Linked DNA regions of Homo sapiens: regions 2, 3 and 4 are each linked to region 1. Evidence: fine-mapped expression QTL. A gene starts in region 1. Each other region holds a variant in brackets. All regions are shown on one strand. Distances are between the middles of the regions.

Region 1 (8,107 bases):
TGACATACAGCAGTGCTGAATAATCTGTACAGCAACAAGGTGGAATAGAAAGAACACAAACTGGAATGAGAAAGGTCCAGGTTTGAATCTTGGCTCTATCATGTACTTAGGTACTGCATGGCCTGGTACACATATAAATACAGGGCACTTGAAGTCTCAAGTTTATTTCCATGTTAAAGCAGACACACACACACACACACACACACACACACACACACACACACACACTTACCCCGCAACCACTTACCTCGGTGTATTAGTCTGACTGAGCTGCAATAACGAAACAGTAACAAAATACCACAGGCTATGTAGCTTACACAACAGAAATTAATTTTCTCACAGTTCTGGAGGCTGAAAGTCCAAGATTAGGTGCTGTAAGGGTTGGTTTCTGGTGAGATCTCTCTCCTTGGCTTGCAGGCTTCTCATTGTGTCCTCACATGTGTAGAGAGGAGGAGCTCTGGTGTTTCCTCCTCCTCCAAATTTATATGTATTACACACCACACCACACACACACACACACACACACAAATATGATTCCATTTATATGAAGTTTAATAACCAGCAAAACAAATCCATGGTGGTAGAAGGGTGATACTGACTAAAAAGTCACACAAGGGAATTTCCTGAGGAGATGGACGTTTTCTATATCTTGACCTGGGTGGTGGCCCCATGCATGTATACACATGAAAAGGTCTTCAAGCTGCATCTACACTTAAGAGTTGTGCTTTTTATTGAATGTGAATTGTATCTTCCTAAAACACTGTCTAAAAATATTACACTCCTCCCAACTCCCACCATAACCCATCTCTACCCTAGACCCAGGGCATAAGATACAGAAGCAGAGGATTCAGAGAGGATGTATATTTGAAAAAGCTTCCCACTTCTCTCCATTACTCCAAGTTGCTAAACATCCTTTTAGGAATTGGAATTAAGCTGGACTATATACATACATGTACATATAAAACTTAAAAATTTGTAAAAGGCCCCTAGAGATCATCAGAGTTTTCTTAACAAAGCAGGCTTACTTTCCAGTTGGCTTTGATTTGGGGAACTTGTTCTGCTTTCAGTGGCTTCAGCATCTTTGAAGGTGTAAAATGAATGCATTAATGAGAGGAACACATTGGGGCTGGGAGGAATTGTGGAAGCCCACGGGATTCTTCTTTGTATTTGTAGTTTGAATTGGGCTTATAAGAATCTGGTAATTGCTTTGAGAAATGTAATATTGATAAGTTCTTACAATTGCAAAGCTTTAAAGCAAACATGTAGTGATGTGTTCAGGACCTATTCCATGAGTCGAATTCCTTTTCACCCTGATGTAGTATAAGGAGACTTGAGTGTGACAAAGATTTAGGAAATGGGTTTCTTTTTTCTTTTTGAAAGAAGCTTGAAACTAGCTTTTATATATTTATCCTGAGAATGAAAGGTTTTTGTCACTTCAAGCTGTACTTTCTATTTAGAAAATATTCTTTTTTTTTTTTTTTGAGACGAAGCCTTGCTCTGTCGCCCAGGCTGGAGTGCCATGGCGCGATCTCGGGTCACTGCAAGCTCCACCTCCTGGGTTCACGCCATTCTCCTGCCTCAGCCTCCCAAGTAGATGGGACTGCAGGCGCCCACCACCACGCCTGGCTAATTTTGTATTTTTAGTAGAGAAGGGGTTTCACTGTGGTCTCGATCTCCTGACCTCGTGATCCACCCGCCTCGGCCTCCCAAAGTGCTGGGATTATAGGTGTGAGCCACCGCGCCCGGCCTTAGAAAATATTCTTATTTGTATTGCCTTTCTGTGATCTATTCTAAAGAAAAAGAAATATGGCTAGTCAGATACACTCTATAGGCTTTTAAGTTAATAACGCATATTTTTTTTCTTTTTCAAGAGAGGATCTCACTCTGTCACCCAGGCTGGAGTGCAGTGGTGTGATCTCAGCTCATTGCAGCCTCGGTCTCTCAGGCTCATGCAATCCTCCCACCTCAGCCTCTCTAGTAGCTGGGACTACAAGCCTCGAGCTACCATACCTGACTAATTTTTGTATTTTGTGTAGAGTTGGGGTTTCGCCATGTTGCCCAGACTGTCTTCCTGTAAGTAAAATTATCTAAATTTTTAAAATGTGTCCACAGGGTTAGTGCTAAATCTTAGCTTTACTTATCATTGAACACTCAGCCACATTCATTGGAGTCTCAACATTCATTTTCATCTGAAGGCGGTGTGAAAACAGTCCTGTCCCCAGACACTGGCTTTATCCACTGGCTTTATTGCTTAGCTTCCTCCACAGGCATGCCATCTATCTGGAGAAGAGTACTTTGATGGAAGTTTAGTCCTGGGAAAGACCTCAGAGATGAACTATTCCAACCAAGCTCTGCCCTCTTTGCCACACTCTACTTAGAAAATAAATTCAGGCCTAGAGGTGAAGTGCCTTGATCAGGGTCCCAAGGCTGGTCAGAGGCAGAACCGGAACCCTTGTGTCTGCCCAAGAAGGACAACAAGTCCTTTGCTGCTTCTTTTATGCCACAACAGCCTCAGGGTGCTGTGCTCAGTTTGGTAGCACAGTGATGTTAGAGCAACACAATATATTTCCTAGTGTCTTTTCACTAGAAAAGACACCAAGCAAGAGGTCTCCCATCTCCCAGGAAAGAGCAAAGGCCAGAGTTTTACATTGAGATCCTGAAGGCATTTTCTTATCTTTAATCCTAATCCTGTTTGGGTCCAATTTCAAAGAGATGAAGAGCATGCACTTTAGGCCTGACAGACTAGGGCCCTGATCATATCTTCCTAGTTGTATGACCCTCAGTGAGACAGGTAATTTCTTCATGCCTCACTTTCCTCATCTAGGAATGGGGGAGTGCTTTCCACACTTTCTGGAACACAGTCAGGCACTGCCTAATGTTTTCTTTGGAAACCCAGCACGTCTGTACAGCTATTTCCTTTAAAATGTGAGAAAGTTGATTTCCCTTCAACCTTTTCTTTCCATCACTTTTGCATTGCACTCGGCGTTTTCTCTAATTTACAGTTCTAGAGATTGGCAGATGCTCGAAGAAAATCAGAGTCACTACGGATTTATTTATTTTATTTTATTTTATTTTATTTTATTTTTTTGAGAGGAGTCTGGCCGTGTAGCCCAGGCTGGAGTGCAGTGGCGCGATCTCGGCTCACTGCAACCTCCGCCTCCCAAGTTCAAGCAATTAACCTGCCTCAGCCCCAGAGTAGCTGGGACTACAGGCGCACGCCGCCACCCCCGAAACATTTTTTGAATTTTAGTAGAGACGGGGTTTCACCGTGTTGCCCGGGCTGGTGTCGAACTTCTGAGCTCAGCCAATCCCCCAGCTTTGGCTTCCCAAAGTGCTGGGATTACAGGTGTGAGCCACCGCGCTTTTTGGTTTCCAATTCTCTTCCCCAAGAGGCCAGGAATTTTTGCATGAGTTGCCGGACACTGAAGTGATTTGGGACAATACATTGTGTGCCAACGACTTCAAGGTCCCTTTTCAACAAAGGACTGGAATCTTACCGAGATAAATCCCAAGACATGTTTGTAGCAATGCAAAGGACCACAGAAATCTAGACAAATTATTTAATTTTGCAGCTACAGAAACCTAGGATCTCAGGGGCTGGGATACTCCTCAGTTATCCAATCGGGCAGGGCCTAAAACCCAGGTTCAGTCGCCTGGCTCCGAGCTTTTTCCATCATACCAGCTGCGTCTCATTAACTCCACCTCCGAAAGTGCTAAGGAAGTTCCCTCCCAGTGCCTACCCAGGCAGGGTGGGGCGATTCTGTGGCATGGAACAAACCGGGAAAACGACATTTTCCAACTCTCAGCACACAGGCTGCTTTTTATCATTCCTACGGGGCGGGAGGGGGCAGGGAGAGAAGGCTAAGACACCGGGTCCAGTACCCAGAGATTCTAGGGAGAGATCTCTGAGATTGCCTACTTGGTGAGGCCACCTTACTTTCTCCTGGTCTGTTTTCCCCTGTGGGGTGGCTGCATGAAACGTCCTGCTTGGAGGGTTCCCCAATATAAGGTGGACTATTCTGAATGTAGGTCGGGGTGAGCAAGTTCCTGCCGCCGCCCCGTCTCTGCGGTCCTCGGAAGTCTAGGTGGGCTCTTCCTTGCCTTGCCTCTTTCTCCCCAACGGCGGGAGCAGCCCAGGGTTGGGGTGGCTGCGGTCGCCTTGCTCTCTCCACTTCCACGTCTCTTACTCCAGGGAGTTTCATCCGGTCCTCCGTCCTCGGCCCCCACCTTTTAAAACATTTTCCAAAACTACCCCATTAAAAGTGTGCGACTTCTCCGGGCCTGCAGAAGGAGCTCCTGCAGCCCGGCATTCCTCGGATTCCAGCGCTGTGACGTCCCCAAGGACGGCGCGCCTCCAGCTCGGGAGCTCGGGAGCTGGGGCTCCACGTTTCAGCGCGCGCCCGCGGCGCCCCCGGCGCGCGCCCTCCCGGGCCGCATTCCTCCCCGCCCCCGGCCGCGCGCCCAGCGCTCCCTCCGCCTCCCGGCCCCCAGGGCCGCGGAGCCCGGCTCTGGGGTGGGGGAGCCGTGGCCGCCGGCGCCTGCTCCGTCCCCTCCCACTCGCACGGCCCCTTCCTCCCTCCTCTCCCGGCCGCTCGCATTTCCTGCCGCTCTGGCTCTCCCGGCCCCTCAAAGTTCTTTCCAACTTTTTCTCGGCGGAGTGAGCGCAGCGGGCGCAGACTCGGGGGCAGGTTGCTGTGCTTCTCCGGGCTCAGCCGCCTGCTCTCCTGGCTCAGGTCCTCGGGGAGCCCTAGACAGACATCAAGTGGCCACTGGCGCTCCTTCCCCTCCCAGCTGAGCCATCCTCCCCGGCCTCCTCGGGCGGGACAGCCCCGTGCTTAGGTTTTTCTCCTTTTCTCCCCCGGTGCGCCTCTGCTCGGACTCTCGCGCCGGGATCGCGGCGGAAACCTCCCTCCCCTTTCGCCTCCTGCGGCTCCTTCCCTTCGCCCCTCCTCCGCCAGTCACTGGAATCAATTCCGTGGGGAATCGGCTCCGCCGCCGCGAAGGACAGCCTTTCCGCGCGGGACTCCGGGGCGCCACGGGGGCCATGTAAGCAGGTAAGCCCCGTCCAAGCCGGGAGTTGGGCCCGAGGTTGGAGGCCGCCTTGGCGCTCCGGGCGCCCTGCAGATGACTTGGGCAGACGCTGGCAACGCCAACTTGCGATTGGCGCCCCGGGACGCCTGGCAGGGCAGCCTGGGGCGCGGGGTGGCCGGGCCGCAGGGGTGTTATCTCGCGGTGGGAGCTGCCCGCGGTGAGGCGCAAAGCTGGTCCCGGGAGCGAGCTGGAAGGTGAGCGCAGTCTGGGGAGTTTGTGGTTAAACCCACACCCTGGTCCCCTCTCTCCATTCCCTTCTGCGTTTTGGGAACGAGAGAGGGCCTCGGAAGGGCAACTAGAGATACCTAGACCTTGGGGGCTAGAGGATGAAAGACGAACGACGTCGCGGTCGCTGCAGCGGTAGGGGGATGCAGCTGCCCGACGCTCCCAATCACACCCCACCACCACCGGGAAGGAATCTTGAGGGGAGCGGAGTTTTCCTGCCCTCTCACTAGGCCCCAGTGGTGCCACCGAACTCCTGGGCGTCGAGGCTCCTACTTGGGTGGTCGAGCTGGCTCGTAGAAAAAAAGCTGTGGCCAAACAATTTCAGATCAGGTCTTCACCTCAAACTTCCAAAGTTGTAGGTATTAACAGCCTCTCCTTCCCCACGTGACCCCCAGATCTCAGGTTTGAATACTTGTAAATGGGGTTTACACCTTTTCGTTTGGAGAGAGCAGTGAGGTAACGCTGCCCCTATCTCCCTTTCCCTCTCACTTCCTTGGGTTCTTGTTCTCCAACCTTCTCATCCCCACCTACAATTTCAGAAATTGTGGGGTTTCCGCTTAAGTCTAGGGACTGGCTGTCGCAGGTTCTTTGTGAAGGTGAGGAATCTCTAGACTGCAGGTGCGGGCAGTTACAGAGTTTCCACCAATGTGTTAACTTCTTGAAATGGATTAGTTTACTCATTCATCCAACAAACCCAGCTTCTACTCTGCTAGGAACAGGATAGAAAGATGCTAAATGAGATCACAGGGCAGGAGTCTGCAGCCTAGTGGAGGAAACTTGAAGGCCGGTGAAGAATGATAATACATGGAAGAGGGGTTCTGTGAGAGTCTGAGGCGAGCTTGGTCCTGGTGAAGGGTGCACTACACTTAGAGGATAGAGGTTGTGCTCCTCTGGAGGGTGTATTCCAGGCAGAGGAAACAGCTCGTGCAGAGTGAACACAAGAAGGACAGAAAGTTTCCCTAGCCATCTGGGGGCCTGAGGGGCATTTATGGCCATGTTGGTGCAGTGTTGCTGGGATAGCATTCTCTCCACCCCCAATATCAGAAATAAATCTAGAAGCACGTTAGCCACTTATGGGAACCACAAGTAGCTTACCGAGGAGCCAAGGCCTCCCTAATTGGATACACCTCCATGCCTGCTGCTGTTTTACCACAAGCAGCTGTTGTATGATCATCTACATTTTAATTGGCCCATGCTCGGTTTCATTAAAATGGTATTGATTCTTCTTTTTTGTCCCCCACATTCAAGCAATGATTCCTTTTTTAAAAAGGCTGTTTGACAGCCGTAGGTGTGGTAATACCGCAGCATTACGGACCTTGTATTATAAAGTTAGCTAATTGTTTGGTGATGAGGTTGAAGCTTGTGCCATAGAAATGACAGCCTTAATGAGCGGGAGCTGAATGGCATGATGCCCTTTTTGCCCAGTCTGAATGGGTGGCCATGAGGTGCAAAATTCGTTCATCTGTATGTCACTAAGTTTGTTATACTTTTCTCTGCTTTTAAGTCATTACTATTGCTTTAGCACAGTTGTGCTAAAGTCGTTCTTTTCTCTGAAACTTTATGAAAATAGAAAACACTATCTTGCACATTTTTGTAGACTAATGGCCCAGGATTCAGCAAATCCTGCCTAGAAAAGTTTCTTACAATGCAGTAGCATTCTGTACGTGGTTTGCCTTTCAAGGGTGTCTCTTCACTGGACTGAAGTGGTGTTGTAGTATTGTTCATAGTGGCTGAGTCCTGGCTGAGGTGGCAGACATCCAGCTTTTGGTGACCTCAGGCCAGTACATCAGAGTGGGAAGAACACACTGACTTCCTACAACTTTGGGTGTTTATCCAAGCCCCTCTACCAGCATCTTTTCTTATCTCAGGAACAGCCCCTTCACAGAAGTTTTCCTGAAGGTGTAGGGACCTGCATGAGAGAAATGGCTGAAGAGAAGCCCACTCCCACTAATCCCAGACATTTGCCCAGTTTCCATCATTGGCTTAAACATGTAATTATTATTAACACTTGAGTTATTCAGATTTGTGCATACTGTGTCATGCTGGTAGCTGTAATAGAAAGGACAGTTAGGCTTTTAATAGGGAAGCACCATAAGGAATTCAGAGAAAAATCAGAATTTTTAGAATAATTCTTATTTGCCCTGAACGGATGGGCTAAGTGTCAAGAACTATGAGGATTTTTTATTTTCCAGTGCCTTCCTTCCTTATTAGAGGTTTAAATTTGCTCCGGGGAAGCAAACATCAACCCTTTGATTACATATTATAGCCCCCCTGGGTTCCATATTCTTGTCATTTTTGAACAAGGATTTCATCAAATTCTTGCATTTGAGCTTCATTACTTAGTCACCAAATGCTGTGTTTTTAAAAAATTCATTTTAAGCCTGAGAACAGTGCTGTGAGCTTTGTTAGAGATAAGGCATGAGAAAGACAAGATGAAATACTTAATTAGCCAATTAAGGAATGAGGGAAAACAAACACGAAAGCTTTGGTAGGGAGGAGGTTCAAGTTAATGTTAAAATACGCTTTTGGATCTCCCCTTACGGATTTAAATTGATTTAATTTACGCTTCCTCTGTATGCATCCCATGGAGGGCTTATTGAGTGGTCCAAGGGGTATGTGTGGCAAATTCTGTAGCTTTTCCTGGCTGTCAGTGTGCTGGAGCAGGCGGTCCAGGTTTGGGAGTTTGAAATATAGCTAGGTTGGAATTCTAGCGCTGCCATTTTTTAGCTGTGTGATGTTGGATGGACGTCATAGCCCTTCTGAGCCTCAGTTTCTTCATCTGCAAAATGGA
Region 2 (8,107 bases), 110 kb after region 1:
TTTCTTATGTTTTACTGTGAAGAAGACTATAAATCAAGACTATACAGTAGATGCCTACTTCATAGTACAAGTTGTCCAAATACATGAAGTTGCTTCTTGTTTCTTTCTTTGCTCTTAAGAAAAAGATATGGTGTGAAAGATATGCAGTTAGGCTGGGCGCGGTGGTTCACGCCTGTAATCCCAGCACTTTGGGAGGCTGAGGCGGGTGGATCACTTGAGGTCGGGAGTTCGAGACCAGTCTGACCAATGTGGAGAAACCCTGTCTCTACTAAAAGTACAAAATTAGCCTGGCATGGTGGCACATACCTGTAATCCCAGCTACTCAGGAGGCTGAGGCGGGAGAATCGCTTGAACCCAGGAGCAAGAGGTTGTGGTGAGCGGAGATCGCACCATAGCACTCCAGTCTGGGCAACAAGAGTGAAACTCCGTCTCAAAGAGAAAAAAAAAAAAAAGAAAGCTATGCAGTTAGGTAGTTAGCTATTGAGGCAACCTACTGCTACTAGAACAATGAAGTATAGACAAATAAGATGAAGTTAACTTAGCCGAAGTTAACTTAGCCGTAAACATAATCTAGCTGTTTCTCTGATATTCTTTCCCTTTAGGGAAAACAAATAGTAAAATAAATCAGTGTTCTTTTGTAATATCACTTGGCATAACTTATTATTTATTGTAGGTGTCCTATAATGAAGAGGAAACTCAGAATTTCAAAAGGAAATAAATCAGAGGCATTATTCGTATTTCAAAAGGAGTCTTCATGTAATGTTTGTGTTCTTTAATGCATCTGAGATGTTTGATTGAGATGCTTTATAAAGCAAGATATGCTTATACGTATGTTTTAGCCATTAGAAAAACAAAGTTTACCAAAAAAATAGGTTGAGCATCCCTAATTCAAAAATTCAAAATCTATAATGTACCAAAATTGAAAACTTTTTGAGCACCAACATGATGCTCAAAGGAAATGCTCGTTGAAGCATTCAGGATTTCTGATTTTTGGATGAGAGATGCTCTACTGGGTAAGTATAGCAAATATTTCAAAATCTGAAATCCCAAACACTTCTCGTCCCTAACATTTTGCATAAGGGGTACTAACCTGTTTAGTATACTTCAAAGAAGTGATAATTTTATTATTACATCTTTAAATCACATGGTTAATGTGTTAGTATTTGGTCTATTTGGAACTTTTCTCAAAAGCAAACAAAAATAATGTGCTATTGAGCTATTTTGAAAATAAGTTCTTAAGCAGAGGTATTGATTTTTATCCTTTGTGAATTCCTTGATTTTCAAAGATACATTCATTCATTTGTTCATTCATTCATTGATTCCAAATTGTTCTTTATTAGTGTTACATTGCAGGACTGAGAAAGATTAAACAATTGAACTCATGAAATAATAAAGATTTGTAATAGAGCATGAGTCAAAATGTTAAAATAGTCTACTTTTTCTAAAGCTTGAGTAGAATACGATGATGCCACATTGTAGTGTTTACCTTTAACAAAGGTGTGAAAAGAAGGGGGAAAAACAACAGAAGCTATATGAAGAGGTGTTTTGTCATGTTGAAGCATGCAGGCTGTGCCTTATGAATTTTTAAGAGACATCCGCTTCCCATAAAGGATTCTCAAGATTGTAGGGGTATCATTACAATGGGTGGGATTGAGAATGGTGTGTCAATTTCAAAAATGGATTTTAAAAAAAATCTTGACGTTGGAAGAGGTGCAAAGAATAGATGTTTTATAATTGTTTGCTCTACCTTTTTTCCTGAATATCAGCATTGGGACATTCAGTTGGAGTGGAGTGGGTGGAGAGGAAGGAAGTGACAGATGTGCTACATCCACACGTTAAAGAAACTTACAGTGTCTGAGCAGCAGCAGAATCTAGAAAGCACAAGAATCCAAAACCTCAAAACTTCCCCAGCCTGAGGATATTATAGTTCTGTGTGGTTCTGTGGAAAAATGTAGTTGCGTTCCATCACCGGATATAATGTAACAGTAGTAGTCATGGTAGCAGCTAACATTTATGTGCAAGATGCTATGCTAAGTATCTCAGATTATTATCTTTTTCAGTCTTCACTAGAACTCTATAAAGTGGGCACCCTGAAAAAGAACTGTTTGTTTTTTAAATAACAGAAGTTTTTTCTCTAACAAGTGGAGTAGATTTAGGTCATCACATAAATGGAGTCTTTTATATTACTTTGCCAGAGAAATACATCCGTTCATGCCTTTCTTCACTGGCTTTATCAGAGTAACAGGGAGTTTAGTTCCATAAAAAGTCAACAAAGAAATCCAGAGGGCTGACCTACCAGTAAGATCAGAGATTATTAACTAGTACTATGAGGGCTGATTCTGGTCTTCAGGTGGGTTTTGTTTCACCAGGATCATTTTTGAAAGAACTGAATTGGGACGCCTTGCAGAGAGGCATGTGCTGTCTAACTGGGCCTAGTTCTCCACTCCCTAGGGAGTTAATAGTCAGCAGCATTTACACATTCTTGTGACCTGTCTGGCCTTGTAGGTATTTAGGTCCTGACTGCCGATACTTGCACTTTCTGTATAACTTGAAGTGCATCTCAGTACTTGGGTCAGCCCATATCTCTTCATTGACCCAGTTGATTTTATGTCATTCAGTGTCCAGCTGTATTAACACTTTAGCTGCCTATAAGAGACTGTAGGTGGTTGAGCTGAGTGTGAGAGTATAACTTCCCTAAGTGCTCATTTGAAAACTTTATTTCTGTGTAAAGATCACTCCGGAGGGCTAGATTATATGTCCCTGTCAACTTTCTACTGCAGAGCCATGGCTCAAATTATTCAGATTTCCTCTCTTTATTGCTCACAATATCTGTCTCATCTCTGATTACCCATAAAAGGTTCATGCATAGAAAGAGTACCAAGCGTCTTATAGGCCAATAAAGACATCATTCAAATCTTAAACAAACACAGCCTATTTGAGAAAGAGCCCTTTGCCTTATATCAAGACAGACCAGAATGATAGAGTTTTATATCTAAATATGAGACCCCACATATCAATAAATCACAGAGACCAGTTGCTTTGTTTTACAGATGAAGAAACTGAGAAACAGACAGATAAAGGGACTCTGCCCATAGTCACACAGCTGTTTAGTGACAAGCCTGGCTCTTAAGGTGGTTCTGGAATGGTTTTAGGTGAACCAAGCATGCTGACATGGGAGAGCCCATAGATAGGATTTATTTAAACGTTCAAAAAGTCTTTGCCAATCCTCCCCTCCCCTCCCCTTAGCTGTAACAGCTAAGACACACTGTGGAATTGGAAGGGATGAGTTTTGTCAAAGAGAAGGAAGTAGTTCAGACAGAAGAAACAAAGGGTAGAGGGAAACAGGCACTTCTTTGAGTGAGTCCTTTAAATAGCGAGCATTATGTAGAGAGTGGAACTAAAATGGGTTTTATTTAACGTCTTTATCAGTGATCTCCAGCCCTGGGCACATAGTGAAAGTGCCAAGCTTTCAGA[T/G]GACACTGAGTCCTTTAGAAGGGTGGAAAATTGAGACATTGCAAGTAAACAGTAGAAAGGTGTCAGCAGGTGTCAAGTTACCAGGTGTGACTCAAATAATGATACTGCTTTCTGGTGTACTTTGTAAAAGCAGAGGAGGCGTAATCATAGCGGGACATGTTGCAACATGTTTCGGTTTACAGCCTCCTAACTCTCAAGGTCAGCTCGTCAATCTTGTGCTTGCAGCTGGGGAGAGTGAGTAGACATTTCGCCTGACGTTTGCTGCCAGCATAAAAATGAGTTACCGTTATTCAGAGCAAATCCCAGCAACTTTGACGTAAGTTTAACTGAAATGCGAGTTAGACACATGGTCCTTTAGTAGAAAATCACAGAGATGAAGCAATGTTGGAAGCAAATGCTTTTGACCAGCATAAATGTTTTGAAGAAGGTAGAAAAGATAGATGTTTATGACAGTGACTAATGTGAGAAACCCATAGGTCTAACTAAGGAAAACATGAAAAAGGTCGGTAATTTGGATCCTTGAAATAAAATGGCCAACTGTGAAAAGATAGCTACTGATGAGGATACTGATGGAAAATTTGAAGCAAGTTATGTATCTGCTAGAGCTCTGTATGTTTTGAATGATTGTTGGAATCAGCAAAGAACTAGTATTTTTTGGTTTAATCTTCAAGGAAAATAATAGCTGGAAATAAAACAATAAAAAAAACACTACAAAGGAGAACATACATTAATGTGGGAAGTAGGGGGAAAAAAAGGAAAAAGAAGGAGAACAGACTTGAAGACCTCACTCTCTGGTGTTTGTTTCTTGGTCAGGCTCTGTAAACTCCCCAAAATTAAGTTCTTGTGTTTAGAATCAGGAGATGATGCTAGCATAGCTATTGTAAGGATGAGTTCAGAAAGCATTTGCCATTGTGCTTAGCATATAGTAGGTCTTCAAATAATATTTGTTTTTTTTAAATGAAAAGATATACTAGAAGGTAGCAGGAAACTGCTGCATCCCTCAGAGAGCTGTGCTGGTATCAGTCACCTGGCAGAAGATTCTCTGTGACCCACACTAACCAGAAACATAGGGGAAGAACATTCTGGGAAATGGAGTGCAGCCTAGTCAGGTTGAGACATTACAATGCCACTGTGAGGCTTCGTACATTATTAATGATTAGTAAAACCCAAATCACTGTAAACCATACCCTACTAGAAACTCTACTGAGTACAAATTTTGTACTGACTGGCGATTTCCAAAATTCAGAATTACTCCCTCAAAACAAATGATTTGATATTATTGAAGATAACTTCAAATTTGTCCCTAATTCCCTCAGGCAATTCCCAAAAGTGGAATTGCAAACAATAATTTAAGCAAACATTTTGTGTTATTATCATAGACATGTATTCCCAGGGAGGTTCCCCACCCTCATTCCAGTCCCATATGAGGGAGCAGATCTGCTGCAGAGGACGCGGCCTGGTGCTTTGTCCTGTGCCGAGTGTAGGAAGGCTAAGGTTATCAGGCCCGAGCAAGGAGACAGGATAAAGCGGGCCTTGCCTCACAGCTTCCCAGATGGTCAGAGCAGCTGTTCAGAACAGGGAAGCCAGGTTGGCTGCCACAGGACGGGCCAGGCTGACCCAATGGTAATCTCACAGTACTTGTAACTTGAAGAGACTGTAGTCTGAAAAGATAAACAGATTCCAGTGAAAGATTATTTAAAGAGATGATAGACTCCTGATGAGTGACAGTTATTTAAAAAATAAAAATAAGACATTGGGAGCCTGTTGGTTCTTTGAGTGTGGTCTTCACACTACGTGCATCAGTATTGCCTATGGCATTTTAAAAAATATGTAGGTTATTGTACCCCAGTCCTGACTCCCTGAATCAAAATCTGTTTTTGATCATTGCCATGGGTGATTCTTATCATTTAAGTTTGGTTAAATGGAAGACAACTGTATCCTGATGTCTTTTCAGCTGTAGCTGGTCTTTTCTGTTAGTAGATGGATGTTGGAGAATCTCAGGGGGGATTTTGGGGAACTGGGAAGGAATTAAAGAGTTGCAAAGCTTAAAACATTTGGTTCAGGCTGAGGAATTTAGAGAATAGATGGCGTGGTCTTATTTAGTAGAAAAATTGTGGGCGTCTTCCTGGGGATCCTAGAAGGAACAGAATGGAGAATCCAAGGTTCTTCTGTAGCAATTTTGTACAGTTTGATTGTATTTCCTCTCTTTCAGAATATTTTAGCCTTCTAGGTAGTTCAACTTCTGTAATGCACAATAGATTATGCATAATATAATGAGTAATACATCTCCTAAATAGGTTTAGGGGATATATTAAATACTATTTATTGCATAAGAATTTAGCCTTTTGTGCATCCTTTATTTATTATTAAATTTATTATTCCTATAAGAATAATAAAAACTGGCCTGAATTATACTACTCTAGGACCCTAAAACCTTAAACACAACTTCCCACTGTTTCTGCAGGCTTTGAAGTTACAGATTGAATTTTAATTTTTAAAGTGAGAATTTTGCAAAACTGAGAATTCTACATATGGATTTCAGTAATTCTTTTGCCACTGTCTGATTTATTGATATTTACTGCATTTAGGTAAGTGTAAGATGAAATAATAGGTAAATTAAGAAAAAAATAAAATAATTTCAGCCAAATAAAATTCAAGGTTGTGAAAACATTATTTCTTTCCATTATCAGTTATTTGAAAAAATATTATTTCTGGCACTGGTTCATGAAATACTTGATTTCAACTACCAACTAGAAGTACACTATATTTAAGTAAAAAAAAAAAAAAATACAGAGAGGCTTGGTTCTAGATAGCAGTTATCTTAATTTTCCAGACATCTGTGACTACTTCCTTACTATATACATTGAGAGATTTTGTGTGTTGCATTTGCATGCATACAAGCACACCCATGATTTTGTGATGTGCTGACTCTTGTTAAGAGTACTTGAAAAGCATTATCCTGAGAGCTAATATTCTGACAAACCTTTTTTTTTTTTTTTTTTTTTTTTTTTTGAGACGGAGTCTTTCTCTGTCGCCCAGGCTGGAGTGCAATGGTGCGATCTCGGCTCACTGCAACCTCCGCCTCCCGGGTTCAAGTGATTCTCCTGCCTCAGCCTCCCCAGTAGCTGGGATTACAGGCGCCCACCACCATGCCCAGCTAATTTTTTTAGAGAAGGGGTTTCACCATGTTGGCCAGCTGGTCTTGAACTCCTGACCTCAGGTGATCTGCCCGCCTCAGCCTCCCAAAGTGCTGGGATTACAGGCATGAGCCACTGTACCCAGCCCTAACTGTCTTTAACCAAAAATCTCACACTTACTTGAAAAAATATGGTTTCAAAATATTTTATCCACCACAAGTTGGCAAATGGCAGGTAAAAGAAAACTGTATTTTTTTTTAACTTTATTTTAGATACAGGGGTATACGTGTGGGTTTGTTATATAGGTAAATTGTGTGTCACGGGAGTTTAGTGTACAGATTATTTCATCACCCGGGCAATAAGCATAGCACCTGATAAGTAGTTTTTCAATCCTTACCCTCCTCTCACCCTCCATCCTCAAGTAGGCCCTGGTGTTTGTTATTCCCTTCTTTGTGCCCATGTGTTCTAGATGTTTAGCTCCCACTTAAAAGTGAGAACATGCGGTATTTGGTTTTCTGTTCCTATGTTAGCTCACTTAGGATAATGACCTCCACCTGCATCCATGTTGCTGCAGAGGACATGATCTTGTCATTTTTTGTGGCTGCATAGTATTCCATGGTGTATATGTAACATATTTTCTTTATCCAGTCTACCACCGATGGATATTTAGGTTGATTCCATGTCTTTGCTATTGTGAATGGTGCTGCAGTGAACGTACATGTGCATGTGTCTTTATAATGGAATGATTTATATTGCTTTGGGTATATACCCCATAATGAGATTGCTGGGTCGAATGGAAATTCTGCCTTAAGTTCTTTGAGAAATCGCCAAACTGCTTTCTACCATGGCTGATTTACCATGACTAATTTACATTCCCACCAGCAGTGTATAAGCATTCCCTTTTCTCAGTTATTTTTTGACTTTTTAATAATAGCCATTCTGACTGATGTAAGGTGGTGTATACCTCATGGTGGTTTTGATTTGCATTTCTGTAATGATTAGTGGTGATGAGCATTTTTTCTTATGCTTGTTGGCCACATATATGTCTTCTTCTGAAAAGTATTCATGTCCTTTGCCCACTTTTTAATGGGATTGTTTGTTTTTTCCTTGTTAATTTGAAAATCTATATTGTTTACACCCAGTTCACTGAATACTTTTTTTTTTAAAGGGTTTCATGAACTATTTAACCATTATACTCTAAAGCAGGCATTTTTCCTTTCTGGTTTAAAATGATTATTTTCTAATTTAGGACATTGTATAATTATAACATAATTATAACTAGAATATGATTAGAACTTCATTTAAAGCTTTGAACATCTAAAGAAGAATGGTGGGTTGAATTACGGATATTGTTGCCTGTTGCTCTGTGATACTTGCATTTTATCTCAACACACACACACACACACGCACACACACACACAGCAGACACACTACCGGACTGAACCATTTTACTTCTTTTCATCCTGGCCCAATATATAAATAATTGATTAGAGAGC
Region 3 (8,107 bases), 93 kb after region 1:
TGGGGAAGAGACTTGTCTAAGTTCTTATAGAAAACTAGTATTTTTACTTTTAAGTACTTCCAGTCACTCAAATTAGAGCAACTAATTATTCCTCATATGCATCGGGGGACAGTGTAGCATGTGGTTACAAGTATAGGCACTGGACTCTTGGTCTTGGGTTCAGCTTACTCTTCTGTCATTTATTAGCTGGGTGACAATGGAAAAGTTACTGAGTCTTTTGAGGCGTAAGTTTCCTACCTATAAAATGGCAATAATAATGCTTACTTCACAGGGCTGTTGTAAATATTAAAAGAGTTCCTGTATGGAAAATGTATAGTGCTGTGTTTAATAATTTATAATTGTTCAAATTTGAGAGTCTTAATAAACAACTTAAAAAAAACCCATTTTTTGTTAAAGAAAATATTGAACAACCATCTTGTGCCAGGCACTTTTTTAGAACTTGGTGAAATGAAGATAAATAAGGTACAATTTTACCTTCAAGACATGCACAGAACAATAGGGGAGTCCAGCCTTTAAATAAACAGTTAATATCAAATGTGGTCCAAGCTAAAATAGAATGCAGGGGTAGGCCCAAAAGGCGATGGCTGTCCTTAGTGTTGTGCAGTGTGCAATCCAGCCCACTGAACACTGCAGTCTTGCTGGTGAGAGTGAAAGAGTTGATGGAAGATGAACATAGCCTTCACTCTGAACCAAAACTTGAAGGACATGTATCAGTCCAGCAGGTAGAAAAGAAGGCCATGTCATCTTTAGTGTGGGGGACTGGATTATCAAAGATCCAAGGATGTGAAAGAGCAGCCAACATTTTGGGGGCTGAGAAGGCATCCCTCTGAATCACCAGGTCAAGCTAGAGTTTATAACAAATGGTGGGAGGTGTGTGGAGATGTGTATGGTAATAATGGCTTTCAACAGACTATTGGTTTTCTCAGTGAGAAGGCAAAAGTCAACCCTGGATCATCCCACAACTACCTTATCACAAAGAATAAAGCAGTGCATTGCCAAGTGTGTGCCGTAGTGTGATTGACATTCCATTGCTGAGGTGGGGTTTGTGTTTAATACTGACTTTATTTTGACACGTCCTAATGGGTGCATCCGCATTCGACCAAATCACTTTCTTTTTGAATTTTATGCTTTCCTTCCATGACAGATAACATTGAAGTTGTGCCCTTTTGGGAATCAGTCCTCTAGATACTCCTGAATTAAAGGATCAGATAGAGTAATCTGATACTTTGTTCTTCTTTTGCACACACACACCTTAAAGAAGAATGCATCCTCTATCCAAAAGCAGAAGTAAGAGGAGGTGAACTCAAGGTCTGCTCCTCATACCTTGAATTTGTATTTGGGTCATTTTTCAAATAGAGCCGATGCTGCTTTAGAGGAGAAGGTGACAACCAATCTAAGATATAACAAAAAGTTTAGTCTTTTTTGGGAGGGGTGTTGGGGCCTAACTCTATTGCACAAGATGGAGTGCAGTGGCATGATCATGGCTCATTCAGCCTCCACCTCCTGGCTCACGTGATCTTCCTGCCTTGGTCTCCCAAAGTGCTGGGATTACAGGTGTGAGCCACACACCCAGCCAAAATATATTTAATCTTTTTTTTTTTTTCCAGTTGAGACAGGATCTTGCTCTATTGCCCAGACTGGAGTGCACTGGTACGATCATGACTCACTACAGCCTCAACCTCCTGAGCTCAAGTGATCCCACCTCAGCCTCCCAAGTAGCTGAGACTACAGGCACATGCCAACATGCCCAGCAAATTTTTAAATTTTTTGTACGGATGGGATCTCACTGTATTGCCCAGGCTGGTCTCAAACTCCTGGGCTCGAGTGATCCTCCCGCCTCAGCCTCCCAAAGTGCTGGGATTATAGATGTGAGACACTGTGCTCAGGGTAATATGTTTAGCCTTTATGAAGTCTTGGAAACTAGATTATGGTGGATATTTGGCTTTGCCATTAGAAGTAGTTTAGGTATATCATAAATTTTGTAATAGCTTTATATTAGGAAAGGATGTATGGTGGATTAAAATTTTTTTATTAAATTTTTTATTTACATTAATTGTTTTGCCACTAAATTTTATTAGATAATTTTTAATACTTTATTTTTACTTTTAAGACTTTGATTTCTTAGAGCAATTTTAGATTCACAGTAAAATTGAGAGGAAGGTACAGAGAATTTCCATATACCCCTGGCCCCGTGCATGTACACCCTCCCCCACTGTCAACATCACCCCCTGAGTGGTACATTTGTTATGATTATTGAACCTACATTGACACATCATTATCATGCAGAGTCCGGAGTTTACATTAGGGCTTACTTTTGGTGTTGTACATTCTGTAGGTTTGGACAAATATGATATGCTGCTATTTAACATGGCTTTCAGAAGGATCCAGGCCTGGTTCCTATTGTCAGCAAACAGTCATGCTCTGGGAAAGCTGAATGTGCTAGGGTCCCTGCTCCCAGAAACCAGATAGGGTCTTTGCTCCTAGAGTTTAGAGAACAGGACAAACAAGAAACAAAGCAAGGGGAACTGCTTGTGCTGCGGTACAGAAACAGGAAAGAACATGGAATTTTCAGGGAAAGGCGGAATTCAGTTTGCACTGATGTGTGTGTGTGTATGTGTGTGTGTGTATGTGTGTGTGTGTGTTAGAATTTTCAGGGAAAGGCAGAGTTCAGTTTGCACTGATCTGTGTGTGTGTGTGTGTGTGTGTGTGTGTGTTGGAATTTTCAGGGAAAGGCAGAGTTTGGCTTGCATTGATCTGTGTGTGTGTGGAGGGGAATTTTCAGGGAAAGGCAGAGTTCAGTTTGTTTGCACTGATGTGTGTGTGTGTGTGTTGTGTATGTGTGTGTATGAAAGGGTCATGGAAGGGAAGGAGGGTAAAGGAGGAAGGGGCAGGATGGAGTCTGCTTTTGAAGGGTTTGCTGTGTCTGCCTAGGGAGTTTTAACTAGATCTATAGGATAGTATTTCTAAAATAAGTTACAAAGGATAATTACCACCTTTTGATTGTATATACTCTGCTGAGCAGTTTCCATATATCAGCTCATGTAGTTCTCATAACAAGTCTGATGTGTCCCTACTCTTGCTGTTCCTATGTTACAGATGGGGAGGCTGCAGCATAGGGTGACCTGCCCACAGTCACTGGGCTGGTAAGTTGTGAGGCCGGTTCAAACCCTGGCAGCTGACGCCACTGTTCCAGTTCCCAGAGACTTGTAGTGGGGGAGCAGGGAGTATGGTAAAATGCTTTGGGAAACATTCTTTCCTCAATTCTGTAGTAAAAGAAAGAAAACGGTGTTCCAGTAAGTGTTTCACAGTTATCTTAGCCTTCCAGAAAATACTCTTTTGAACTATGTGGGGAATAAAACATTGCTGTGAAGTGTAAGGTCATCAGAGGACTCCAAGGAGGAGCATGACATAGTTACCTTGCATGTTAGGTAAAGAACTCAGTAGCACTCAGTAGTAGAAAAGAGTGGGGATCGGCCAGGCGTGGTGGCTTGCGCCTGTAATCTCAGCACTTTGGGAGGCCGAGGCAGGCGGATCACGAGGTCAGGAGATCGAGTCCATCCTGGCCAACATGGTGAAACCCCGTCCCTACTAAAATACAAAAATTAGCTGGGCGTGGTGGCACATGCCTGTAATCCCAGCTATTTGGGAGGCTGAGGGAGGAGAATCACTTGAACCAGGGAGTTGGAGGTTGCAGTGAACCAAGATCGCGCCACTGCACTCCAGCTTGGTGACAGAGTGAGATACTGTCTCAAAAAAAAAAAAAAAAGAAAGAAAAGAGTGGGGATCAGCTGGGCACAGTGGCTCATGCCTGTAATCCCAGCACTTTGGGAGGCTGAGGCGGGCAGATCGCCTGAAGTCAGGAGTTCGAGACCAGCCTGGCCAACATAGTGAAACCCCATCTCTACTAAAAATACAGAAATTACCCGGGCAAGGTGGTGCATGCCTGTAATCCCAGCCACTCAGGAGGCTGAGGCAGGAGAATCGCTTGAATCTGGGAGGTGGAGGTTGCAGTGAGGCGAGATTGAGATTGTGCCACTGCACTGCAGCCTGGGTGACAGAGTGAGACTCTGTCTCAAAAAAAAAAAAAAAGAAGAAAAGAGTGGGGAT[T/C]GGAGGCGAGGAACAGAGATGCCAGTGGGCACAACTGTAAACCTGGCAAGAGGTCATGAGATGAACTGCTTAGGAAAAGTGTGTTTTCATTGTTTTAAAGATGAGGGAAAAATCAGGGATAAGTTGCTGCTTGGGAGCTCTATTAACAAAGACAATTCCAGAGATATAGGAAGCTCAGAAAATCAGAATTCCAATAATGTCATTATAATATGTCTGCATCAGTGGGTTTAACCCTTTTCTGCAAATCTTTGGTGGAGCATGGATGTGTAAATGGAGCTGGGCCTTTTACAGAGGAGATAGGATATCTGGAGCCCTATCTCAGTTTGAAAATAACTAGCCTAGGTTAAGGGAAAAAGAGCTAAAACAATGGTGCCTTATGACTAATTCTCACGGTTTAAAAAAGAAGTACATGAAAACACAGCAGAGTTTAGTGGCTAGGAATGTCAGCTTGGACCAAACTGCCTGAGTTTGAATCCTGGTTCTGCCATTTACTAGCTATGTAACCTTAAATAGAAGTACCCTGTGCCTCAGTTTTCTTATCTGTAAAATGGAGATGGTAATAGTAGCCACCTCTACAAATTGTTGGGAGGATTCAGAGAGTTAGTTTTTCATAGTTGCCACAGTCTCACAGTGCCTGGCATAGGAAGCACTCGATGTGGCTGCCTTCTTTGCAAAACACCACCCAAGCCATCCAGCCTCTGCCATGACACTTCCAGAGACTGGGCTGTCACCCTTTTGTAAGTCTGCTTGTTCCATTTTTAGATGACTTTAATTATTAGAAACTGGGGCCAGGCCTGGTAGCTCACAACTATAGTCCTAACACTGGGAGGCCAAGATGGAAGGTCACATGAGCTCAGGGGTTCAAGACCAGCCTGAGAACATAGTGAGATCCATCTCTACAAAAAAAATAAAAAATTAGCCAGGCATGGTGATGCATGCCTGTAGTCCCAGCTACTTGGGAGTCTGAGGCAGGAGGATCCCTTGAGCTCGGGAGAATGAGGCTGCAGTGAGCTATTAACATACTACTGCACTCCAGCCTGGGTGACAGAGTGAATCTCTCTGTCTCTCTCTCTCTATCTCTCTCTCTCTCTCTAGGTATAGATATAGATATAGATATAGATATAGATATAGATATAGATGAAACTGTGATCTTATATTGAGTTAAAATAGCAAAGTCTTTCAGTTCCTCGAACAGCTAGGATTAATTTAAGGTTGTGCTGTCCAATATGGTAGCCACATGTGGTTATGGAACACGTGAAATGTGGCTATTTTGAACTGAAATGTGTGGTAAGTGTAAAAACACATCAGATTTTGAAGACATAGTATGAGAAAACTAAAATACTCATTAATTATATGTATGTTTGAGTACAGGTTGCAATGATATTTTGAACGTGTTTTAAATAATATTTATTAAAAGTAATTTCACTTTTGGTACTTTTAAATCAATGTGGCTTCTAGAAGATTTAAAATTAAATATGTAACTCACATTTGATTTCTGCTGAACAGTGCTATTCTAAGAAACGCAAAGGGGGCATTTAATGGTAATAGTGAGTATAAGCATCCTAATAAAATGTAAAAATATGCTAGAATAACCTTGGCTCTACTTTTAACTTAACAAGTGGAAGAAGGATAAATGATATAACAAAGGCACCTGAGATACCCTTCAGTTCATTGGTAAACCCTATTTGAGGTAGAGAACTGCTGTGAGGAAATCCAGCGCTCTGGAGAATGGTGACTTTCATAACTCTCGGCTCTCTCCTAAGGCTAAGCCTAAGAGCCTTGGTTTTTAAAAGAGTGTAAAAAAGCTTTTAAAAACCAAACTATAATCATTTCAAAGAGTAAGTCCTTATCCTCTAATTTATCCCCTTTTTCTTTTGCAAATTTATATTTTGATCTTTACTAAAAGCTGTTTTACCCAAAGCTATCACTACAGTAGAAATTTTCCACATTTTGCTATTTTCATAATGACTAGAGATTATAAAGATAAGAAACTTAACATGCATTTCCTATTATCACATAAAAGTTAACTTACATGAAGAATATTTCTGTGGTTTGATTTCATGCTAATCTTTTGGCAATTAATAATTTATGTGGGATTTGGGGGGTACTCAATTAAATGCAACACCTCATGCCCTGGCAGATAATAGTGGAATTCTGCTGTATTTTATAGCTTGTTTAATCACGTCAGTATATATGTGTATTTGCAAAGGATTAAAATAATCAATGCTGATTAAGAATCGACTGAAGAGTAGACTGCTGGGGGAGATTTCTCATCTTTAAGTTTTGTGTTGCTTTTTGTCTTTGTAAAAATGACAGTGTGAAACATTATTAGCTTAATGTCAATCCTAGAATGTAATGGCACCGGCATCTCCATTTTCTAGGTATAGAGATTGTGGGTGAACTATTCGCCAGTCTTAACTTGTACGTCTTCATCTTTCTGTGTATTCTAGGTGAGTCGTACAGTCTCAGAAGAGTGGTTTTTCTTGGCTATGGGACTTGCTTCTTGGGTCTGTGTTACTCTGCATTTTCTTTTCATGTACTTTTATAAAGAGATTGGCTAGGAAAATGAAGAGGGTGCAGTTGTTAATTATAGATGTGTCAGTTATAGAAATCTCAGACCTACCCAGAGTAGAGGTTGATTACACACAAGTTCTTTTCTACCGTTATCCAACTGATGTACAGTGGCTTATTTTCCAAAGCCATTGGAATGTAATTGCATGAAGTGCTATTTCAGAGTCTGCTTATAGTCATCTTTTGAAGTATTTTCCATGCCTCAGTGAAACTGTTCGTGCTTGTATAATATGTAATTCATATATTTTATGTGGAAGCACACCATTTCTTAATTTACAGCTGAAATATTGGGTAAGATAGGCAACCTATTACAACTTAATGCAAGATATTTTAAACTTTTGCTTCTGGATGAGTAACTCTTCAAAATGCTTGAGATAAGATCATGGCTTTAATCCTTGGTAATTGCCAAGACTGCATCTAAACCTCTTACAAATAGCATTAGTCTGTGCCATTGTCACAAAACTGGAAAAACAAAACCCTCAAAAAATATTTCCCTTTTAATAGCTAAGGTGGGGGATTATACCATCTCTTTACAAATAAATGAACAAACAAATAAAAACCACCCCAAACTACTTTTTAATAGATTTTATTTCTTTAGAGCAGTTTTAGTTTCACAGCAAGATTGAGCAAAAGGTACGGAGAGTTCCCATAATGTCCCCTGCCCTCAAAACTACTTTTAAGGGCCCTTATTCTCTAGAATCTTTCCATAATACCAAAAGATGGACATTTTGACGCTGTAGTATCCACACACCAACCTGCCACTGAAGAAACTAGCCGATTTTTTAGTATATGCTTAAATGTATGTTTCCTGTGTTAAAATGCAGTACACCAAACCAAATAAATGAGGAAGCTGCTCACATAAAAATGACATTTTAGTGTGGCTTTCCCTACTTGGTTTCATCGTAGTGCATTTTTTGTAAGTGGTTCAGGGATGTGGTTCTTGTGTCTGAGGACTGGCTCTTCTGTCTTCTTTTCTCATCATTGCAGTAAACTTATTGCAGAACTCATGGCACCAGAGCTGTGTGTTCTAGTTTTCTTAAGAAAACTGGAGCAATAAAATGGGATTCATACCTCACCCAGAGGAGGTATCATGAGGATTAAATGAGTCTGGCTTACTTTTGGTGCCTGAGATATAAACAGAACAGATATTTCAGGCATTTACTCAGGTAATATGATGGGATCCTCTTGGTGTCATGGAGAAGGTGGTTTCTATTTGCAATCATCCACCATGCTTTCTTCAACCATGTGGCAATGTTTAGCAGCTAAGCTCAGCTTTCAAAATTGAGCTAGAGTTTAAATTGGCAAGTTAACCACAAACCAGCCTGGTGGGGTCTCAGCTGGGCTTGACAGGATTAGTAGTTCCTTGGATAATACACAGGAAGTTGATTGGTGCACATGCTAGTTGAAATGAGAGCCTAGGCTCTGATTC
Region 4 (8,107 bases), 180 kb after region 1:
CCTATTATTGCATGGTATTTAGAAGAGTGGAGTAATTTTCACCTACACTATAAAAGTGTGGTTAATATTGAATCTTGAAAGATTTGCCACATTAGTCAATGAATTTGTGTTACTAAATTTTTGTTGTTATTTCAAATACTTCAAACCTTTATATGTCAGTATTACATAGTTTAGCACTTCTGCAGTTAAAACTTTGACTTATGGATACATGTGTACCTGTAGTTAAATGTTTCTTAAATAGCTTACCTTCCTCAGAGTCCCTGTTAACAGAGGGACACTTATTTAGAATGTCACCATTTGCTCTGAACTCTGAAGTGGGAGATTTGTTCATCTATTAATGTTAAAGCCAGTGTTATAGGTGTTGTTAAATAACACAAGGTTCAATTGATAGTCCACTGTGATCAATAGCCTTAGAAACCTGTTTTCGGCCTTGTCTAGAATTACTTACTTTCCTCATTGGACTTTTCAACTGTAGCAGAATTATTAACAGGTTTTTTTAAGCCTGTAAAAGGCGAGTTAGATATCTAGCTTGTGTATCAATTATAACTAGTTTTGATACAGAATGGGAAAAGTATAGTATGGTTGGGTATATACTATTTTTATTAATATACACAGATAACCATAGTTTTTAATAATTAGAAAGTACTGTCAAAAGAAATATAAAAGAGTAACTATCATAGATCATATTACTAATTTTAACTTGGATTTTTGAGAGTGAGAAGTAAAAAGTGAACTCTAGGAAACTCTTAAATAAACTGTCAGTGGTGGGTTTCATGGGCTTAGTTTACATTATGAAACAATGACCAAAGTAATGTATTCCAACAAAGATGCAGATCACACAGCTGCTTCCTGATAGAGTGTCTATGAAAATCTTACATAGAAATATTATATTATCTTCTTCTTTTGGCCAGATCTCTTCCACTATTTTCCATCTGCTCTCTGAAAAAAGCTGTCACTTTGTATAAACTGTGCCCATCGGGCATTGTTAACCGAGGAGCATTCCCTTCCTTGGTATTCTCTGTGGCCCACATTTCATCCTGTGGATCCGGGTTAGACATGGGTGCATTTCATAGACCCGTGGACCTTGCAAGAACTTGTCCCTGTGTTTTGGAATAGAGGAGTATATTTTGCCAGTGTTTTCCCCCCTGGGTTCCAAGCAGCCGTTAACACAGAACAGAGATTTATTTGCTCCAGAGGTGGAATCACATGTGTGAAATCTACCTCAGCAGCACTGCTTGTTGTGTTTTTAATGCAGTTTTTAATACCCTTCTGTCAATACTTGGAATATACTGAAAGGCCCCAGGCAGCAGCAGCATTCTCTGGAAGTATTTATGTTTCCTATACGTTGGGTGCCAGAGAGGCTAATGTTTAAAATCACAATTCCACGGATAAACCAAACTCCTAGCCAGCAAATATATGAATGTTATCTCCCACCAGTATTTGGAAAATGGATTTTTCTTGCCAGCTTTGACCTAAACATGCCTTGTGTAATGAGACAATAACTTACATTGTTTTTGTTTGAACCAAGTTAGCATACAGTTTTATCAAATAAATGAGGGGAAAAAGTTTCAAACAATGATTACTTCATTACTTTTTGAACTCTCCAGAGATCTGCATTGTATAGATGTAGAAGGGACCTGACTTTGCAATATCAAGGCACAGACCTGGAAGGGAGAACAGAAAGAATTCCTCCAAAGGCCACCATTTCACCTTGACAGCATGACCTTTAACACTTTGGGTACAACTTCTTATTTATGGTTCTCAGCAGCTAGTATTTATAGCTGTAGAATTATCTTCCCCTGATCACCCTGAGCTGCAGGGGTAATAATTTTATTATCCAAAGTCATGTCATGACTGTAGTTCAGTTGGATGCTGTGGTACTACCAAGGTGAAGCTATTGATAAAATATATGCTGTTGACAAGAGCATTCGTAGCATCTCTGCCGTGCATGGCACCACAGAGCAGCAGTGACAGCAGAGGTTTATGATACACTTCATCTCAGATCCACAGGAGAAAGATAGTGCTCCAAAAGGGATGTTGTTTCATGATCTTTTTTTTTTTTTTTATTGTTTAATTGGATGCCATGAAGCACTGCTTTTCAAACTGGATTACAACACAGTGGTAGAATGTGAAATCAGTTTAGTGGTCATGACCAGGTGTGTGTGTGTGTGTGTGTGTGTGTGTGTGTGTGTGTGTGTGTGTGTGTTTCAATGAAATCGACTAGAAAAGAGAAAAGAATGGAAAGTGTTAGAGTACATTGCACATAGTAAGCAGTAACTATTATTTCTGTAACAAGTAAATCCTAAGTTATACATGTTCATATATATGCATCTATACATGTGTGTATGTGTATGGTTTTTAATAGGCACTAGTTTGCATATACTGTGAGTTGCAAACAAAGATCAGGTAAAGGCCAAGCCTGGTGGCTCAGGCCTGTAATCCCAGCACTTTGGGAGGCTGAGATGGGCGTATCACCTGAAGTCAGGAGTTCAAGACCAGCCTGGCCAATGTGGTGAAACGCCATCTCTACAAAAATACAAAAATTAGCCGGGCATGATGGCGAGTGCCTGTAATCCCAGCTCCTTGGGATTCTGAGACGGGAGAATTGCTTGAACCCAGGAGGCGGAGGTTGCAGTGAGCCAAGATCGTGCCACTGTACTCCCGCCTAAGCAGCAGAGCAAGACTCAGTCTCAAAAACCAGGATTAGATAAATATTTAATAGGCTTGAGTGGCAAAAAGTATTTTCATGTGAGAATGTGTCACTACACTAGCCTCTGTAGTCTCAGGGTTTTTGTTCATTGAACTAATTCATTCGGCCCCAAAAATATATCCAAGGTTTTAAGGTGGATACAGATGGACAGGTGATCAGCAGGTAATGTTGTCCGGACTTGGGGTTTATTTACCGATACTTTTCTTGGTTTTTAGGTGGTGGTTGGCGGGGCAGAATGGCACTACATAGCCACCCAGGGGCCCCTGCCACACACGTGCCACGACTTCTGGCAGATGGTGTGGGAGCAGGGAGTGAATGTGATTGCCATGGTCACTGCAGAGGAGGTAAGGGGAATGGCCTACTCCACATCCTTTTTCCCCAGGGGAAAGGGTGGCCAGAAGATGGGCTTTGTGCTGTCAACTTTGCTACCCTATCCTTCTTCCTGCAGTGCTGTTTCTCTGCACATGCTTTTCTCTTTGGTATACATCTGTTTTCTTACTTCCAGATAGATATTTTTTCCCCTGGAGATAATTGATTGTTGTAGCTTTTCCTCCTCCCATTTTCATCTGGCTTTTAACTCTTTTCCTTGGATTGTAATGCACTAAACTGAAAATAAAACAACAGAAAACCAAAAATGACAGACTTTAGTTCAACCTGCTGACTTTCTGTGCCAAACGAAAACAGTGATCTTTCCACTGGAATTTGGGAGTCTCAGGCTGCTCTGGGCAAATCGACATAGACGCCCAACTCCAGGCACCCAGCTCCACATGCCATCATCCTTATCAGCTGAAAAGAGACCAGAAGCCGTTGTTCCTGGAGAGTCCTCTGTTCTTTGGGGGAAGAAAAAATATCTTTTTCTTCTTTTGCCAAGCCAAACATAGTTTTTCTGCTGTAACTAGAGAACTCTATGTGATGTTATAAAAAACCAGCCTACACTGCCAGTCAATCCAGTCGGTGTTGAGCTTGCTGTCTTTGTGGGGAGAAGTGTTGTATTTCTTCTCTTGTCACATTCTCAAAATTTCTTTAACCACCTTCTTTTATTTCTTTCATTAAATTCCAATTTATGTTTTGAAATCATTCAAGGGACTAGTTTCATGTGTGTTTACCAATATCCATGGTATTGCAGTGGCCTTTCCTAGCTATGTTAAAGGGGTCAGGAACAAAGAAAATTGGGGAGGAAAAAGTCATATTTTCCTTCATTGACTGTGTTGAGCATTTGCTTCTCAGCACAGTCCATTAGAAGAAAATAATGAAAGGGACATCAGGCTCTTTAAAGCCAGTTGTACTTCCCTGGGCTGACCTGTTTGACCTTCCCACAAAGAGAATGAATCCTCCTTAAAGCTTCTAGAATAGATTTATCACCTTATCAGCTCACACCATTGCAAGGCATTCATTCACCTAAATACAGCATACCATCTGTGCTAACTTCAGGAGTACACGGTAAACGAGACAGGCACCATCCCTGTCCCCATAGAGCTTATGTCCTAGTGGGAGGGACATTCAAAAGTGAACAGATAAAATCAGTGCAGATAGCAGTAAGTGCCGTGGCAGAAATGGAAAACTATAGTCCAGAGTGGGTCTGGGTGAGTACAGGTCCTCCTGCCTCATCCCTCCTCCTCTTTGTGTGGGTTTCAGCTGCAAAACTGTCATTCACGCTAGGGGACTCCTACTAAAGGGTGGCTTCACGATGTGCAACCCTGAGCTCCAGGCTCTGTATCATGTTGCACACTTGCTGGAAGGCTGGAAGTAAAAACCTTATTAATAGTAGCATAAATTCAAGGGAGAAAATTTTTAAAAATGGAAAAAGGGTTAAGAAAGAGAGTG[A/G]CTGGGGTCTACTTTAGATCAGGGGGGTGGCCAAGGACCCTCTGAGGGAGTGGCATTGGAGGTGAGACCGGAGTGACAAGGAGCCAGCCTTGCCAAGACAAAGTAGCATCTAGTAATCTGTGGGACAGCTGGGGACTTATAGTCTTTTAAAATCCATAACTGATTTAGACACTCAGCAGAAATGTAAATTCGAGGTAAATCTGCTTTCACAGGATTGGTAAATAAAAGAGGAAGGTATGCTTCCAATTTAAGGAGACTCAATTAAACCAAATGAAGCCAGGCAAGGTAATTTACATATTCCGCAAAGATGTGTTGCTTTACAAGTGGGCTTTACAAGAGGAACTCTAATGTTCCTGTAAACAGCCATCAGGGTTCCCAGAGCCTGTCACCACTGCAGCTGTATGTGTTCAGTGCTCCTTCTCTCTCACCACCTACTCCTTGCCCTGAATCTCCTCAGCTACCACCTCCTCCACACTCCGCCCCTTCTCCAGAGATTTTAAAACGGTGCAAAGCTGAAACATAGACCTTGTGTAAATGGTTGAGAATACATATTCTCAGAAAAGTTTATAAAATCAAGGGAGAAAGAATGGTGATGTAAGCAGCTGTTCTCAGTTCTAGTTGTAGATTGAACTAAAACGCATTGGTCAGGCTGAAACAAATGTGAAATCGACACTAGATAAAGACAGCATCGGTAGTCAGTGTGCTGTAACAGAAAGAGCTGTGCGCTGAACATCCGAAAGGAGTAACGTGACCTACAGCGATTGCTGGAACCCCTTCCCGCCTTGTTTAAAACCTTTGAATGACTTCCCGTGCCCATGGGATGAAATCCAAACTTTCCACCATGGACTGTGAGGCCTTTCCAGTCTCCTCTCTGATCGCCTGGCCCCTCACATGTCACACTCCAGCCACCCCGAAGACCTTCGTTTCTTTTTTCTTTTTTTTTTTTTTTTGAGATGGAATCTCCCCTCTGTTGCCCAGGCTGGGGTGCAGTGGCGTGATCTTGGCTCACTGCAAGCTCCGCCTCCCGGGTTTATGCCATTCTCCTGCCTCAGCCTCCCCAGCAGCTGGGACTACAGGCACCCGCCACCGCGCCTGGCTAATTGTTTGTATTTTTAGTAGAGATGGGGTTTCACCATGTTAGCCAGGATGGTCTCGATCTCCTGACCTTGTGATCCACGCGCCTTGGCCTCCCAAAGTGCTGCGATTACAGGCGTGAGCCGCCACGCCCGGCTGACCTTTGTTTCTTGAATGCACGAAGCTTGTTCCTGCTTCTAGACTGCACTTGCACTTCTCTCTAACATTCTACTGCACCTCGGTTGTGAATCTTTTAAATTTTCCATTGATGTAACTGTCATTGTAAATTGTGTTATTGGTCTTAACTAGCATGTATAGGATCTACCCTGTGGTAGACACTGCAGAGTGCTACTGAACTAGCGATTTAGAAGCTATTTGCATTTTCTTCTGTCTTCATATCTTAGGATTAAAAGGATGAGAGCTTCCCTTGACCTATTTCCAATTTTGCTTTTATATGTGATTTAGGAGGGTGGACGAACCAAAAGCCACCGATACTGGCCCAAACTAGGTTCAAAGCACAGCTCAGCCACCTATGGCAAGTTCAAGGTCACCACGAAGTTTCGAACGGATTCTGTTTGCTATGCAACCACGGGCTTGAAGGTCAAGCACCTTTTGTCTGGGCAAGAAAGGACGGTGTGGCATTTACAATATACTGACTGGCCAGATCACGGCTGTCCAGAAGATGTCCAAGGATTTTTATGTAAGTGTTTTTCTTCCCAGTCTGCTACCTGACTGACTTTTATGATCTGTGTCAATAATTCATCTGTTGGAGATGAAATGGAAAAAGAGGATGCTTTCTCTTAAGTGGCAAAAGTATTATAATATTGAAATATATATTCCTTTCTTACTATGTAGAACAGAGTATAATAATACATGTCACTTATTCTGTTTACCTTTCATGCACGTAAGCTAAGACTGTGATCAACATATTGGCTCTACCTTGATTCAGACCTTTAGCTACTCATTTAATCAGTAACTATTCTGACACATGTTACAACAAGGATGAACTTTGAGGAATGATGCTGAGTGGAAATAATCCAGTCACAAAAGGACAAAAACTATGTGATTCCACTTATATGAGGTTCCTAGAATAGGCAAGGTCAGAGACAGAAAGTAGGTGAGAGGTTACCAGGGGCTGGGGCAAAGGGGGATTGGGAAATTACAAATTTTTTTCTGAGGCGGAGTCTCGCTCTGTCACCCAGGCTGGAGTGCAGTGGCACAATCTCAGCTCACTGCAACCTCCGCCTCTCAGATTCAAGCAATTCTCCTGCCTCAGCCTCCCAAGTAGCTGGGACTATAGGCACAGCCACCACATCTAGCTAATTTTTGTATTTTTAGTGGAGATGAGGTTTCACCATGTTCGCCAGGCTAGTCTTGAACTCCTGGTCTCAAGTGATCTGCCCGCATCAGCCTCCCAAATTGCAGGGATTACAGGTGTGAGCCACTGTGCCCAGCCAGGAATTACATTTGATGGGTGCAACATTTCTGTTTGGGACAGGGAAAAAGTACTGGACATGGATGATGGTGATGGTTGCACAACTATGACTATGCTTAATGCCACTGAACTGTGTACTTAAAAATGGTTAAACTGGTAAGTTTTATGTTGTGTCCACTTTAGCACATTTTAAAAAAAAGGAGAAATAAAACTTAAAAATAGGCCGGGCATGGTGGCTCACACCTATAATCCCAGCACTTTGGGAGGCCGAGGTGGGCGGATCACCCGAGGTGAGGAGTTTGAGACCAGCGTGGCCAACATGGTGAAACCCCATCTCTACTAAAAATACAAAATTAGCCAGGTGTGGTGGCGCATGTCTGTAATCCCAGCTACTGGAGAGGCTGAGGCAGGAAAATTGCTTGAACCTGGGAGGCGGAGTGAACCAAGATTGCATCATTGCACTTCAGTCTGGGCAACAAGAGCAAAACTCCATCTCAAAAATAAATAAATAAATAAATAAATAAAAACGAATAACATTAAAAAAATTGTTTTCATGAAGGTTTGCATCTCACAAGACCTATATTTCCCTACAGTTGAGCATCTCAGTACTTTCTCGTACTTTCTCATATTTTTATGAAGACACTAAGAAGTATTGAAACCCTCTTGTAGTTTTTGAAACTGAAATTTGCTCAATGGCTAATTCATTAATTTCTGTGTATGTGTACTTTTAGAATGTGGTTATATTAGAAACTAATTCACCAGATTATGTGCAGTATTTTTATTTGAAAGACCCAAAATTGGGCATGTACCCACTACGTGCCAGGCACTGGATCGGGCTCTGAGAATGCAGAGATGACACTGAGTTCAGTCTTCACTTCCGACGTACTCAGAGCCTAATGGGAAAGACAGGCCAGTCATCATCGTCCAAAGATGAGATCTGATACCCTCCTCTGCTTTTCAGCGGTGGCTGCAGCTCTCCCTCTTGCTTTCCACATGCTCATCTAACTGTCCTGTGCTTGTCAGGAGACCCCGTTCTTTACTCACCCACCTGGAAAGGAGCCCCA

Which allele goes with the higher level. Positions count from the first base shown, and alleles are read on the strand shown. Sizes are in standard deviations (SD) of each study's normalised expression. Not every link is listed here.
In carriers of allele T in region 2, the expression in pancreas of the gene that starts at base 4,635 in region 1 tends to be lower than with G alone (large effect, 1.3 SD a copy in GTEx).
For the expression in cerebral cortex of the gene that starts at base 4,635 in region 1, T is the high allele of the variant in region 3 and C is the other (small effect, 0.28 SD a copy in GTEx).

The links. PIP is the estimated chance that this variant, and not a neighbour inherited with it, causes the effect.
Region 2: its variant is fine-mapped to the expression of PTPN14 in pancreas (GTEx, PIP above 0.99). The same link has a PIP of 0.9 or more in skeletal muscle and stomach.
Region 3: its variant is fine-mapped to the expression of PTPN14 in cerebral cortex (GTEx, PIP 0.96).
Region 4: its variant is fine-mapped to the expression of PTPN14 in tibial artery (GTEx, PIP 0.93).

Annotation. Positions count from the first base shown.
Region 1 is chr1:214,548,130-214,556,236 of GRCh38, reverse strand. PTPN14 (protein tyrosine phosphatase non-receptor type 14) reads left to right here and starts at 4,635. Exons shown (of 19, transcript NM_005401.5): 1 at 4,635-5,054. RefSeq lists enhancers at 3,509-4,329, 4,330-5,150, 5,151-5,972.
Region 2 is chr1:214,435,166-214,443,272 of GRCh38, reverse strand. The region is part of intron 3 of PTPN14 (protein tyrosine phosphatase non-receptor type 14); the gene reads left to right. Among named protein-coding and RNA genes, the nearest start is that of PTPN14, 110 kb to the left of the region's middle. RefSeq lists enhancers at 3,500-3,839, 3,154-4,125. The variant T/G (reference allele first, on the strand shown) is at 3,475.
Region 3 is chr1:214,455,132-214,463,238 of GRCh38, reverse strand. The region is part of intron 2 of PTPN14 (protein tyrosine phosphatase non-receptor type 14); the gene reads left to right. Among named protein-coding and RNA genes, the nearest start is that of PTPN14, 92 kb to the left of the region's middle. The variant T/C (reference allele first, on the strand shown) is at 4,108.
Region 4 is chr1:214,367,658-214,375,764 of GRCh38, reverse strand. It overlaps PTPN14 (protein tyrosine phosphatase non-receptor type 14), which reads left to right. Exons shown (of 19, transcript NM_005401.5): 16 at 2,926-3,054; 17 at 6,074-6,308. Among named protein-coding and RNA genes, the nearest start is that of SMYD2, 91 kb to the right of the region's middle. RefSeq lists an enhancer at 5,588-6,088. The variant A/G (reference allele first, on the strand shown) is at 4,535.